4 linked regions of the Homo sapiens genome follow. The protein of the gene in region 1 interacts with the protein of each later gene in a pairwise test. Each region holds a gene or a part of one and is shown in the gene's direction. Other genes may lie near its edges.

Evidence for each region. The genes of interacting proteins can lie anywhere in the genome.
Region 2: the proteins of GNAI2 (region 1) and RGS20 interact in binary tests that used the Homo sapiens proteins (3 or more experiments, as listed by UniProt).
Region 3: the proteins of GNAI2 (region 1) and NUCB1 interact in a two-hybrid assay, tested with the Homo sapiens proteins (one study listed by BioGRID).
Region 4: the proteins of GNAI2 (region 1) and CXCR5 interact in binary tests that used the Homo sapiens proteins (3 or more experiments, as listed by UniProt).

What each region holds. Positions count from the first base shown.
Region 1 is NC_000003.12:50,242,704-50,246,203, forward strand, and holds part of GNAI2 (guanine nucleotide-binding protein G(i) subunit alpha-2), read left to right. Parts: intron 1-3,500. UniProt on the Homo sapiens protein: Guanine nucleotide-binding proteins (G proteins) are involved as modulators or transducers in various transmembrane signaling systems.
Region 2 is NC_000008.11:53,887,372-53,890,871, forward strand, and holds part of RGS20 (regulator of G-protein signaling 20), read left to right. Parts: intron 1-3,500. UniProt on the Homo sapiens protein: Inhibits signal transduction by increasing the GTPase activity of G protein alpha subunits thereby driving them into their inactive GDP-bound form.
Region 3 is NC_000019.10:48,917,312-48,920,591, forward strand, and holds part of NUCB1 (nucleobindin-1 precursor), read left to right. Parts: intron 1-1,392; exon of another isoform or gene 1,393-1,414; coding exon 1,415-1,473; exon of another isoform or gene 1,474-1,580; intron 1,581-1,718; coding exon 1,719-1,811; intron 1,812-1,882; coding exon 1,883-1,975; intron 1,976-3,280. UniProt on the Homo sapiens protein: Major calcium-binding protein of the Golgi which may have a role in calcium homeostasis. Acts as a non-receptor guanine nucleotide exchange factor which binds to and activates alpha subunits of guanine nucleotide-binding proteins (G proteins).
Region 4 is NC_000011.10:118,882,621-118,886,691, forward strand, and holds the start of CXCR5 (C-X-C chemokine receptor type 5), read left to right. Parts: upstream 1-1,271; 5' UTR 1,272-1,321; coding exon 1,322-1,372; intron 1,373-3,506; exon of another isoform or gene 3,507-4,071. UniProt on the Homo sapiens protein: Cytokine receptor that binds to B-lymphocyte chemoattractant (BLC). Involved in B-cell migration into B-cell follicles of spleen and Peyer patches but not into those of mesenteric or peripheral lymph nodes.

The sequences.
Region 1 (3,500 bases):
GCTGGTTCTTCTGTGCCGGCCTCTGTGCACATTTACAAGGCTTGAAAGGCAGCACCACACCAGTCTGAGCAAAGGCCTAAAGGTGGGGTCATCTCAGCCTTGTTGGGGAGAAGATATCCTTATGGCTTGGAGGAATCTGGGGGCTCCAAGGCTGCTGACAGCCTCAGGATATGCAAAGGAGGTGATGGCAGCACCTACTGTGTGTGCCCCCGGCGGGAGGAGGAGGTAATGAAGTCTGCACGACATGGCAGGGCAGGGCTGGGCCTCTCGGGGAAGTGGTGTCCACACCAGAGGAAAAGGAGGAAGCAGCTGGGGGAGGAGGAGCCCAAAAGAGGAAGAGGCCAGAGGGCTGCCTGGTGCTAGGGTGGGGGTGAGAGCCCAAGGGCCCCCCAGGGCTTTGCCAACTGGAAGGGTCTAGGAGGTGAACACCTGCCCAGGCTTATCTTTGCACTCCTGTGGGCCATTCTAGTGGCGGTCACTGAGTTGGAGCCAGTCCAGGTAGCTCTGTACCTTGTCCCACCCCAGCAACCATCGGGCCCAAGATCCCAGAGAAGGTGGTGCCTTCGAGAAGGATTCCAGGCCCCTTCTTTGGCCACAGGAAGTTGTGGCTGGGAGAAGGACGCTGGCGGGAGGGCTAGCAGGAAGGCAGAGGGCTGCTCTTAGATTCCCGAGCGGCCATTGCTCTCCAAAGCCGGAAGGCCAGCCACAGGCTGAGATGAATGCCTGGAAATGCAGCAACAGCCCCGAGATGAGCTCACTCTGGGTTTCCCCTGCTGGGGGGCGGACAAAGGATCCCTGGCCTCAGCCTAAGGATTCTCCCCTACCAGCACCCACTCACTGGGTCTAGGGCTGCATTCACTGGGCCTGTTTCCCCTCAGGTGATAACCACAGCTGTCTCTGATTGAGCCTTGACTGTTGTGTGGAGCTGAATTCTTCATTATCTTGTCATATTTAATCCTGTGAGGCTGGGACTGATATTACACCCATTTCACTGATGGACAAACTGAAGCTCAGGGACTTTATGCACTTAAACAGGGAACAGAGATGTCAGGACATGACCCATGTAGTGATTAAGCGCCTGCCTCCAACTGCCATGGCCCTTTGGGAGTCTGTGCTGGCTGGAAGTAACGGATCAGGCAGGACAGCAGGCAGACGGTGTGGGTGCGTGTGTGTTCTGCCTGTGCCTATGGGCCCTGGCTTTCGGGCCTCAATTCTTCTTTTAGGAGGCGGAAAGGGAGCTGTCTGTCCTGGAAGGTGGGACCCAAGACTCTGTGTATGAAGCTTTCTACAGCCATGTGGTCATGGGGGACCCCCTCCACTCCTTTTTTTTTTTTTTTTTTTTTGAGATGGAGTCTCACTCTGTCACCCAGGCTGGAGTGCAGTGGCATGATCTCGGCTCACTGCAACCTCCGCCTCCTGGGTTCAAGCGATTCTCCTGCCTCAGCCTCCTGAGTAGCTGTGACTACAGGTACGTGCCACCACGCCCAACTAATTTTTGTATTTTTAATAGAGACGGGGTTTCACCATGTTGGTCAGGCTGGTCTCGAACTCCTGACCTCAAGTGATTCGCCTGCCTCGGCCTCCCAGAGTGCTGGGATTACAGGTGTGAGCCACTGCGCCCGGCTGCAGCTGCACCTTTTGACTTCCCACTTTTTCTCCTAGTCCGTATCCTCTCACAGTGATGCTCAAGTTATAGCTGGCAATTTAGGACTTCATTCTTTCCCTAATATTATGCTTGTTCTCCCATAAGCCCCAGTCTTAGACTGAGACCAAGCCTGGGGAAGGCTCAGAAGCTATTGAAGTCCATGGTGAGGGCCTCTGAGACTGGGAATTGTCCAGAGGAGTGAAATGAAAGCATGTTCCTTAGGGCTGCACTGTGAGCACAGGCTCAGTGCTGGGTGCACGTACGGTACTGTGTGGTGGTAGAATGTGGCCATGGTGTTGGCTGATGACTGCATGATAGTTGTTGAGGCTGGTTCCTCTTGCTCCTTGGCCTCCGAATCTCAGTGCTGTGGCCTAGTGGGGCCTTGCCCTCTCTTGTAGGGGTTCCTAGGGGTTCTGCTGTGTTGCCAGGCCAGGCCGTAAGGGACTGAGGGGGCTGAGGAAGGCTTAGGAGAGCCAGAGCAGAAGCGTCCAAGCCTCTCTGGGCCATGAAGCCATGCACAGAGCAGAGACCCGTGCATCCTCATGGCCACCCAAGACTGTGGGTCCCAGAGGGTCCAGTTCCTCACCATGAGACCTCAGACTGTCCTCTTCCCTCTCTGTATCCAGCACTAGAATCTGTGATGCTGTGATTTTTTTTTTTTTTTTCTGAGACTGAGTTTCGCTCTTGTTGCCCAGGCTAGAGTGCAGTGATGCAATCTCGGCTCACCACAACCTCCGCCTCCCAGGTTTAAGTGATTCTCCTGCCTCAGCCTCCAGAGTAGCTGGGATTACAGGCATGTGCCACCATGCCCGGCTAATTTTGTATTTTTAGTAGAGACAGGGTTTCTCCATGTTGGTCAGGCTGGTCTCGAACTCCTGACCTCAGGTGATCCGCCCACCTCAGCCTCCCAAAGTGCTGGGAATACAGGCGTGAGCCACCCCGCCCCGCCAGTGCCGTGATTCTTAGCATGGTCTCCTGGCCTGTGGACACAAGGACAGCTGCTGGCTTGGGTTGGGCCCTGAGGCAGTTTGGGGTGACTTTGAAGAGGCTACTCAGGGCAGGCCTTGGGTTTGGCACCCTCCCTCAAGGGGTACATTTCATAGATGAGGCCTAGGCTCCCGTTATCTTTCCCAGAGTCCACCGCCATGAATCAGAAGGGAAAAGAGGTCATTCAGGTGCCTTGGGAACAGCGGAGGGATGCCTGAAATGAAGAGGCCTCCAGGGAGACGGTGCCAAATGGCCCAGCTCCGCGTGATCCGCGTCTTGTCCAGCACCTCCTGGCTCCTGCACAGGCGGTACCTGGGGCCTGAGGCGCCAGCGATGAACAGGTCTGGGGCCTCCTTTATATCAGGCCAGCCTTCCTCACCCGGTGCCTGAGTTTCCCTCTGTGCAGTGGAAAGGGCCCCACTGAGGGAGACACACCTTGCCCCAGAAAGACTTTCCCATGTGTGGGCAGGACCTGAGGCCTCAGTTTCCCTAACACAGAGATCTCTGACTTGGCAGTAGGAAGCCAGGCCCTGCTTGGTAGTGCTCCCCTTTGGGCACTGTGAACCCCTGGAAGCCGCTGGAGGCAGCCGAGTGCCAGAGACTGGCGGGAGGGAGGTGTGGAGTCTGTTGGTCTGTTCAGGCATCCGTTATAGGGCCATGCCACACACATGGGTGGGAGTGTTGCCGGTCCCTTTCAAGACCTCGAGTCCCTGCCTCCCAGTGCCGGACCCGTGCTGAGCCTTCTCGGAGGGAATGAGGGGGGCCGGGGAGCAGCACCTGGAGGAAGGAAGAGACGCCAGGGGCGGGGCTCAGAGGGCCTTTGTCTGGCGGGGTCTCTGCCCCTCCCTCCCGTTGCCATGGTTTCTGT
Region 2 (3,500 bases), on another chromosome or scaffold:
ATTCGTTCCTTATCCTGGATATTGGCCTTTACATTTTTCTGTTGTATCCAAGGGTTCAACCTCTAGGGTGATGATCGTCCCTGTAAGGATTTTTGGAAAAATCTGCATTTTGGTGGAGGCTCCACCTGAGGTTGAGGGAAATGAAGAGATGGGTTAGACTGTGGACACAAGAGAGGTGACACAGGAGAGGGTGCTGGCCAGAGAGCAGCCCAAGAGCACACGCCCATAGATTTCTTAATTTGTATAAAAGTCATGTTGATAATTAATGACAGGAAGTCATTATCCAGAGAACTCAGATTAGACTACTGTTAAAAAGTACATGTGGCCAGGCGTGGTGGCTCACGCCTGTAATTCCCACACTTTAGGAGGCCAAGACGGGTGGATCACTTGAGCCCAGGAGTTCCAGACCAGCCTGGGCAACATAGTGAAACCCCGTCTCTTTAAAAAATGCAAAAAATTAGCTGGGTGTGGTGGTGCACACCTGTAGTCCCAGCTACTTGGGAGGCTGAGGCTGGAGAATCACCTGAGCCTGGGGACACTGAGGTTGCAGTGGGCCATGATCTTGCCTCTGCCCTCCAGCCTGGGCAACAGAGTGAGACCCTGACTTAAAAAAAAAAAAGGTATATGTATATTTTTCTCTATTCATCTTTTGATGACTCCAGAAGAATCTTACATGTATGGGGTCTTCCATTATACATTCATTGTGTTTTTACAAATACTTATTTCTAGTGACTACCCAGATATAATTCATATATCTCCTGCCATAAAGAAAGGTATAGATATTTCTTTGCATTTAAGGGGGACTTTACATACAGAGTTTAATTCTTCCTGACCTACTATAATCCCCGCAAATTTCAGTTGTTAGGACTGTTTAATGAATTAGAGTATTTCTAAAACTGAAACAAAGTTTTTCTGTGTTTGTTAGGTTTCAGTGAGGAGCTATTTGGTATTTTTGTGAGGTTTATGACAGCTTTTAACTTCATTTACTTGAGTTATAACTTACAGTAAAGTTTACACATCTTAAGAGTACAGCTTAGTAAACTTTATGTAAGTGTACCCCCACAGAACCACCATTTAGATCAGGGTTTCTCACCTCAGCACTGTGGAAATTTGGGGTTGAACAACTCCTTATTGAGGGGGGCTGTCCATTGCCCTGTAGGATGTTTAGCAGTATCCCTGATCTCCACCCACTGCATGATGCAGTAGCGCCCCTCCCTGGATGCCATGACCAAAAATGTCTCTAGACATTGCCAAGCGTCCTCTGGGGCCAAAATCACTCACCACGGCTCTAGATGAAGATATAGGATATTTTCAGCCCCCCGTGCTCTCCCAAAGATTCCGTCTCGCTTCCTTCCATTCAGGACTCACTCCCACAGGTAACCACTTTTATAACTTTTTTCACCATATACCAATTGTGCCTGCTTTTAAACTTCATATGTAATTAAACAGTGTATAATATTTGCATCTGGTTCTTTAGCTCAGCATTATGTTTTTGAGATTCATTTGTTGTTGTACGTGTTGTTATTTTTTAATGCTGTGCAGCGTTCCTTTGTGTGAATACACCACAGTGTATTCCATTCCACTACTGAAGAAATTTTAGTTGTTTCCAGTGTGGAGCTATTATGAATAATGCTAATATGAACATTCTCATTCATGTCTTTTGATGAACTTATTTCCTTTGGGTATATGCCCAGGATAAAAATTGTTGGGTAATAAGTCCAGTGTATGTTTAGCTTTAGTAGATACTGCAAAACTGTTTCATAGTCCAAATCAGTTTACATCCATCCCCACCAGCAAAGTGTGTATTGCTTCACATCCTCACCAGTACTTAGTATTGTTTGCCCATTTAACTTTAGTCATTCTGGTGGCTGTGTAGTGGTATCTCATTATGGTTTTAATTTGTATTTCCCTGGCTACTAATGATGTTAAGCATCTTCTTATATGTTTTTGGGTCAAGTCATTTGTATATTTTCTATTTAAAATGCCTCTACAAGCCTTTGGCCCATTTTTCTTTTTCTTTCTTTCTTTCTCTCTCTCTCTCTTTTTTTTTTTTTTTTTTTTTTTTTTTTTTTTTTTTTTTGAGACAGGGTCTCACTCTGTTGCCCAGGCTGGAAGGCAGTGGCACAATTAGCCGTGAAGCTGAGACTATAGGTGTCCACCACCACACTCAACTAATTTTTTTATTTTGGATATTGGGAAGGGGTAGAGATGGGGTTTCACCATGTTGCCCAGGCTGGTCTTGAACTTCTGTTTGGCCCATTTTTCTATTGTGCCGCTGATCTTTTATTATTGTTATTATTGATCTGTCACAGTTCTTTATATATTCTGGATACAAGCCATCTGTCAAAATTCTGTGTGTGTGTGTGTGTGTGTGTGTGTGTGTGTGCACGTGCTGCAAATCTCTTCTTCCAGTCTGGCCTGCCTTTACACTCTCATTCCATTATCTTTTGACTTTCCTAGTTTCTGTTGGAAAGTTATGCTTCTTTGAAGGTAGCCTGTTGTTATCCTCATAAAGTTTTTCTCTCATTTTTGACTTACCACAGTGAATATAATGTGCCTATATGTGGTTTTCATTTTATTTATTCTCCTTTGGGTTAACTGAGCTTCTTTTATCTGTGGATTGACGTCTTTCATCAACTTTGGAAAATTTTCACTCAATATCTCTTCAAATATGGCTTTGTCTGGTTTTCTTTCTTTCTCTCCTGCTTCTGGGACCCAAATCACAGATATGTTGGCCTTTTTCCTTCATGTCTCTTATTGTCTGATCTGTTTTGTTCATTTCGCATATCTTTCTGCTTCAATTTGAATATTTTCTGTTGACCTGTGTTTTAGTTAATTAAGCTGTCTTCCTCTGTGCCTGAGTCTTCTGTCAAATCATCTAGTGAGTTATTAATTTCAGAACTTGTTTTCTTCTAAATGTAGTATGCCAATTTGATTCATTTTAATACATTTAAATTATCTGATGAAATTTCCCATCTTTTCATCAGTTTAGTCCATCTAATTCTTATCTACTAAATCCAATGAGATCATCTGTGTGCCTGTATCCATTTTTTTATTCATCACATTTTTATCTCTCTTCACATATCTAGTAATTTTTATTATATGTAGACATTGTATATAAAGAAACTGTGTAGGTTCTGGTAATTTCTTCCACCAGCAAGGATTGAATCTCCCTTGGAGGGATTTCCTGTCTAAGGATGAAGGACTGAAGGGCTGATCACTTCAGGCCAGCAGGTATTAGAATGGGTCAGATCTGGTAACAGTTTTGGGGGTTTTTTTGTTTTGACATGGAATCTCCCTCTGTCACCCCTAGAATGGAGTACATTGGCACCATTATAACCTAGAATTCCTGGGCTCAAGCAGTCCTCCCACTTCAACCTCCTGAGTAGCTGGGATTACAGGCACTTGCCAATTCACCTGACCATTTTTTACAAATGTTTTGTAGAGATGGGGTCTCGCTATGTTACCCAGACTGGTGGCTGCAGTTTTAATAAGATTTA
Region 3 (3,280 bases), on another chromosome or scaffold:
TTTTTTTATTTTTCATTTTTTTTATTTTTAGAGATGGGGCTTCCCTTTGTCACCCAGGCTGGAGTGCAGTGGCGTGATCATGGCTCACTGCAACCCAGACCTCCTGGGCTCAAGTGATTCTTCCACCTCAACCCTTAGAGTAGCTGGGATCATAGGTGCACACCACCATGCCCAGCCAATTTTTAAATTTTTTTTTTCTTTTTGAGGCAGAGTCTTGCTCTGTTGCCCAGGCTGGAGTGCAATGGCATGATCTTGGCACACTGCAACCCCCGCCTCCCAGGTTCAAGCTATTCTCCTGCCTCAGCCTCCTGAGTAGCTGGGGTTACAGGCACTTGGCATTATGCCTGGCTAATTTTTGTATTTTTGTAGAGACGGGGTTTTACTATGCTGGCCAGGCTGGTCTTGAACTCCTGACTTCAGGTGATCCTCCTGCCTCGGCCTCCCAAAGTGCTGGGATTACAGGCGTGAGCCACCGCACCCGGCCCAATTTTTTACTTTTTTTTTTTTTTTTGTAGAGACGGGGTCTAGCCATCTTTTCTAAGCTGGTCTCGAACTTAATGTGCTCAAATGATCTTGCCTTAGCCTTCCAAAGTACTGGGATTACAGGCATGAGCCCCTAAATTTGGCCCCTACATTTTCTTTAATCTTAATCAATTTACATTTAAACAGCCCATGTGGCTAGCGGCTACTGTACTGGACAGCGCAGATCCAGAGTTTAGGCAGAGAAGAGACCCCCAGGCCTGAGCCCTGGGCCACACTAGCATGTGGAGGTCAGGAAGAGGATGGAGCCGTCAAAGGAGGTGGAGGGGCAGCCAGAGAGGACAGAATCATGTTCTGGAAGCCAAGGGCAGAAAGTCAAGTCAGATGCAGGTGGAAATTAACCACTGGATTTGCAAGATGAGGGTTCCTGGCCTCCTCCTCAGGAGGAAGGTTGTGCTTGTCTGAGGGAGCCGAGGAAGGAGGGCCGGTGGTGAGGACAGGAAGTGTGGCTGACCGAGCCTGAAGCCCTGCAGCTGTGGGGTCTACGTTGGTAGGAGAGGCTCCCCTCACAACTGGAGTCGGCACTGGCCTGGTTGTCTGGGAGGCAGAGGTCCCTGATAACCCTGGAGCTGACTCTGTGTCCAGAGCACTGAATGCCAGGGCCAGAGAATCCTGCATGACAGTGACCCAAGCATGTTTCCTCGAACCCTCCCTTTGATCTATTCCATTCTCAACCCCCTGGTCGCTAGGCAGTGGCCCTAGCAACGGGTCTAGTGGGGTACTAAAGCCTGGGGGCCACCGTTCCACCGCGGGAGACCCGTAGTTACCTGTCCTCTGATAACAGACCCCACATCAGCCCAAAATTTCTTCACCAGGGACCTTACACATCCCGTCCTCGGTCCCCTGAGATACCTTGCTATCCTCTTCCCTTCAGATATCAACAGTGATGGTGTCCTGGATGAGCAGGAGCTGGAGGCACTCTTCACCAAGGAGGTGAGCATCTTGGAAGCCTCGGGCACCTGGAGGGACGCCCAAATCAGCCACTTGTTTCCTCCTGCAGTCCCCTTAAATCCCCCTGGATGGGAGCTCAGTGAAAACTACAACTCCCATCAGCCCCTGGGGCAAAAACGGCTCCCAGGAGTGGTAGCGTGCCCAAAGGACTGCTGGGAGTTGAAGTTGTCGGGAATGAGCTCGCTGGGGACCTCTCAATGCTGTCTGCCTCTCGCTTGCTCCTGCAGCTGGAGAAAGTGTACGACCCAAAGAATGAGGAGGACGACATGCGGGAGATGGAGGAGGAGCGACTGCGCATGCGGGAGCATGTGATGAAGAATGTGAGGTGGGGGCCAGGCGGGGGAGAGGACGGGCCCCCAGCTCTGTCACTCACCCTTATCTGGCTCCCCAGGTGGACACCAACCAGGACCGCCTCGTGACCCTGGAGGAGTTCCTCGCATCCACTCAGAGGAAGGAGTTTGGGGACACCGGGGAGGGCTGGGAGGTGAGAACATGGGGGATACTCGGGGTCCTGAACCTCTCTCTCTTCTAGCCATGACCTTTCTTTCAGAATCTTAGGCCCCTTCTCTTTCTCTCTGGGTCCCCGTCCATTCTCCTGGGTCACTGCATCTCTATCTCTGGGTCTCTGTTTTCCCCTGTCTCTAGGACTCTTATTTATTTATTTATTTATTTATTTATTTATTTATTTATTCTGAGACGGAGTCTCACTCCATCGCCCAGGCTGCAGTGCAGTGGCACGATCTCGGCTCACTGCAGCCTCCACCTCCCAGGTTCAAGCAATTCTCCTGGCTCATCCTCTTGAGTAGCTGGGATTATAGGTGCGTGCCACCACACCCAGCTGATTTTTGTATTTTTAGTAGAGGCAGGATTTCACCATGTTGGCCAGGCTGGTCTCAAACTCCTGACCTCAGGTTATCCACCCACCTTGGCCTCCCAAAGTGCTGGGATTAGAGGTGTGATTTTTTTTTTTTTTTTTTTTTTTCTGAAACAGGGTCTTGCTCTGTCGCGTAGGCTGGAGCCCAGTGGTGGGATCTCGGCTCACTGCAACCTCCGCCTCTTGGATTCAAGCGATCCTCCCATCTCAGCCTCATGAGTAGCTGGGATTACAGGCGTGAGCCACCATGCCTGGCTAATTTTTGTATTTTTTGTAGAGATGGGGTTTTGCCATATCGGCCAGGCTGCTCTAGAACTGCTGGACTCAAGCGATCCACCTGACCTGGCCTCCCTAAGTGGTGGGATTACAGGCATGCACCACCGCACCACACCTAGCTAATTTTTGTATTTTTTGGTAGAGACAGGGTTTTGCATGTTGGCCAGGCTGCTCTGAAACTCCTGGACTCAAGCTATCCACCCTTCTCAGCCTCCCAAAGTGCTGGGATTACCCAGGCTGGAGTGCAGGGGTGTTATCATGGCCCACTGCAGCCTCAAACTCCTGTCCTCAAGTGATCCTCCTGCCTGAGCCTCCCTATTAGCTGGGACTACAGGCACATGCCAGCATGCCTAGCTAATCTAGCTCATTCTTTTATTTATTTATTAATATTTTTTGAGACAGGGTCTCCTGTCACCCAGGCTGGAGTGCAGTGGTGTAATCATAGTTCACTGCAGCCTTGAATTCCTGGGCTCAGGTGATCCTCCTTCCTTAGCCTCCTGAGTAACTGGGACTACAGGCACATACCACCATGCCCAGCTAATCTAGGTCTCTGTTTTATTTATTTATTTATTTGTTTGTTTATTTTTCAATACAGAGTTTTGCTCTTGTTGCCCAGGCTGTAGTGCAATGGTGCATTCT
Region 4 (4,071 bases), on another chromosome or scaffold:
CCAAGAAGCAGCCACCATGTGTGGGTGCCTCTGTGCGTGCAGTCATCTTTCTCACATCATTGTGGATCAAGAGAGGAAATGCCCACTTCTGGAAGAAAAAGCCACAAAATGAGACTTGGAAGGGAAATTGATCAACATCTACAAAACGGCTTCTTAAAGGAAGCGGCCCTCAGACAGGACAGAGTTGAGGGAAAGGACAGAGGTTATGAGTGCCTGCAAGAGTGGCAGCCTGGAGTAGAGAAAACACTAAAGGTGGAGTCAAAAGACCTGAGTTCAAGTCCCAGCTCTGCCACTGGTTAGCTGTGGGATCTCGGGTAAGTTGCTCTCCCTCTCGGCCTCACGGACCTCCTGAATAAAAATTGAGGGTTAGACTGGATGATCTCTGAAGCCATCTCTAGCTTGGTAGTTTATGAGGTTAATAATTTATGAGCAAACAAAGTTAATTTATAGATAGAACATCATTATTTTTGAGTCAGAAAATGACTCTGTAACTATGTGCTTTTCTTGGTGATTTCACTTTTTTTTTTTCTTTTAGAGACATGGTCTTGCTATGTTGCCCAGGCTGGTATCCAACTCCTGGCCTCAAGCCATCCTCCTGCCTCGGCCTTCCAAAGTTGATTTCATTTTTGTCTTCCAGTATTGTTTTACTGTTGTTCCCTTTGAAAAATTCTAACCTATCTTTTCTGAACTTGAGCTGAGAAGGGAAGGGGTTTTGCCTCTGTTGGGCAAAAGGATGGTGGCAAGTAGTGTGACCAAGTGCCCTAACTTGCCAGGACTTAGGGGTTTCCCAAGTCAAGGGACTTTTCAGTCCTTGGCAGACTGGAATGGTTGATCACCCTAGTGGTGAGGAAAATGAAGGTTTGGAGGTGGCTTGGAGGAGAGGTTGCTGGGAGAGCTCTTCTCCTGTTCTCTGTTGATCAGGAGTTTCCCTCATCAACCTGCTGACTTTGCGTGGTGGTTTCATTACAAGTTGTGAGCCCCTTATTGGGGGTATAGGGAGGAGAAGTGAGGGCAGCCTTTAAACTAGTCATAGGCCCCAGTTGAGACAATTATTGCCGGGAAAGAAGCTGAAATGCTTGACTAGCACTGATGCTGTGGGGGATTTTCCCTCTTTCTTCAAAAAAACAGAAAAGACCCAGTGGAAAAAAAAAAAAAAGTGATGAGTTGTGAGGCAGGTCGCGGCCCTACTGCCTCAGGAGACGATGCGCAGCTCATTTGCTTAAATTTGCAGCTGACGGCTGCCACCTCTCTAGAGGCACCTGGCGGGGAGCCTCTCAACATAAGACAGTGACCAGTCTGGTGACTCACAGCCGGCACAGCCATGAACTACCCGCTAACGCTGGAAATGGACCTCGAGAACCTGGAGGACCTGGTGAGTAGACACGGGTAGCTTCCTGTCGCCGAGGCCCTGTCTGGAATTCTAACATCCTTTGCCAGAGTCCGAGGGAGAGGGGACAGTGTGGGAATCCTCTCCCACTGTGGATCTGTAAAATCTAGACAGGTCAGTCAGCTCCCGCCCTTTAAGAGTTTATTTTCCATTCTGTGGAAGAAGCAGATAAGGAGAGCTGCTGTCCTTAGGAGACATCCTTTAGAGGAAGCTGGAAGACACGGGTTCAGGCCCTGCATCCTCCTCTGAGTTGCTATGTGACTGGGAACAGGATACTTCACCTCTCCATTCTTTCTCTCCTTTTCTCTTAGGGTCGGAATATGGAACTAGACAGGAAAGTACTTTGGAGGTTTTCTTACCGTAAGGAGGCTGGCATTGCTAATCAGTCAATGAATGCATAGCTGTTCGTCTCTGGCCATATGATTATGTCATCAGGGCACTACATTCTGTGTTGGGTGGAGAAGTTGAGGACCTGGTCTTTGCCCTCAAATAGCTTCTGCTCTGGCCAGAGAAAAAAATCACTCACTGGAAGCTATTAGGCAACAATTATGTGCTAAACTGAGGGAATGTGAGACCAGATGGTAGCAAGGAAGAGGATCCCAGCAGGCTGGAGTCAGGGAGCAGGGTGAGAAAACTGTTAATCTGACAAATGTCTTGGAACCTGTTGTAGAATCTCTAGAGATAAGGTATTCTTGGAAAGGTTTCTTGGGTGGGCTAAGAAAATGGTCTCCAGCACTACGCTGCCACCACTCAAGTCTCTCCAGTGAAGCGTAGTGGTGCAGTTGACTTGGTTGTCACTGGGCTCCCAGAAGATGTGTGTGTGTGTGGAGCAGCTCAACCAGAGAAACACAGGGTTCCTTGTGAGCCGACGGCAGAGGCTGGTTGTAAGGGTTTCTTGGAAACTTCTTCACTGTCTTTTCTCCCCCTGGAGAGAGGACTTGTTTCGGGGCTGCACTCTGGGTTAGATCATGAAGGAGCCAAACCCTGGCTCCTACCAACTCTCCTGTCCCAAACTTACCCTAAGATATTGTCTGACTCCCTCCTGCTCCCCCGGCTGGAGTGGACTTTGTGGAGTGGACTTTGTAGTTCCACCAACCATGTTCCCAGACTTGCTCAGAGAAGCCCGCCTCTCGCTTGCCCAGATCCCAAGGCTGGGAAGTGTAAGTAGGACACGGGGAGAAAGTGGGCAGAAGGGCTGACTACCCAAAGCCTGGCCCCTCGGATCCAAACCGTAGGTGGAATCAGAGCCGGACCATTCATCTAACCAGGACCTGCTACATAATTTGTGGGACCCAATGCAAAATGAAAACATGGGGCCCCTTGTTGAAAAATTATTATAAATAAGAAGGCAACAGCAGAGCACTAAACCTCGTGGGGGGTCCTGCTGGGTGCAGGCCCCCGTGTGACTGCCCCAGTTGCAAGCCCATGAAGCTGCCCTGAGTCTAATCACAGAGTCTGGGCAATACCCCAAATCAGACTAAAAACCCGCGGCCCCAAAGGGGCAATGTGCTCCCACCCTGGCCCCCGGTCACAGCCGCTGGCCTCGCCTGATTAGGTTACTGGGCGTCTTCCTCTGCCTGCAGCTTCAAACTGACCACGAGCCCTGACCCAGTTGGACATCTTAGTAACCAACTGGAGACCCGGCGGGTCCCAGCTTCTGAGAAACCTTAAGAGTTTCCCCTAACTGCACGCCTCACCTCACTGAGTGACCTACTAGGGACAGGTGGGGGCAGGGGGCAGGGGCAGCAGGGCATGTCCCAAGAAAACCTACATCTGGGGGAAAGGGACCCAGTGACTTTCTTCATGTCACACCTCAAATGAGTGATCCTCAGCCAGGCATTCCAATATCTGGATCCCTCACTCAGGGTCTAGCCAGGAGCCCAGGAGTCCTAGGACCATCTGGGCTCTGGAGCTCTTCAGCCAGCCACCAGTGCCTCGTTCCCCCTTCACGAATCTCCTACACACCCTGTCTCCAGGGCCAATGTCCCCTCAGAACACAGACCCTCTCCTCCGCCCCCACCCACTCACTGAAGGGCCGTGAGCAGCTTGGCAGACTGTCCCTCAGTGTCACAGTACAAAAACCTCGGGCGTAGTGGTACAGGCAGGAGAATCTTGCATGTAGCAGCTTCTCAATAAGTATTTATTGATTTGTGATGCAGTAAAGGTCTTAGCTCACCATTTTCCTCTGGAGTTAGTCTGGGTCCTTCTATTCCTTCTGCTTCCTATTCTCCTCCTTGTCCTTGCCCATACCAGGTATTGGTTCACATTCCTTGAACGCTGGGTTTTACACTCTCATGTTGAGCTAAGAACTGGGGCCTTTTGGTTACACAAACTTGCCAGAAAAAAAAAAAAAAAAGGAACTGGGGGCTCCTGGCCATAAGCCAGGTTCGTCATTCTGTATTCCATTTGTCCTCTTGAACTCGAAGACCAACTCGAGCCGCTTAAAATGTCCACTTCTTTAAGGCAGGGGCTGGGGGGTGGGGACGGGCTGCTAATTCTCATCAATGAAAGGTCCAAATAGAACAAAAATTAGATGGCTAAGAACCAGGAACAAGAAGATTCCAGGTCCTGGGGTGGGTATGCCAGGGACCCATCCTGCTGGAAAGGCCGATCCTGGCAGACCTAGAGCAGACCCTGTCTATGCGACCCTCGATCTGAGAGCCTCCTTCCAACAGAACCAGGGC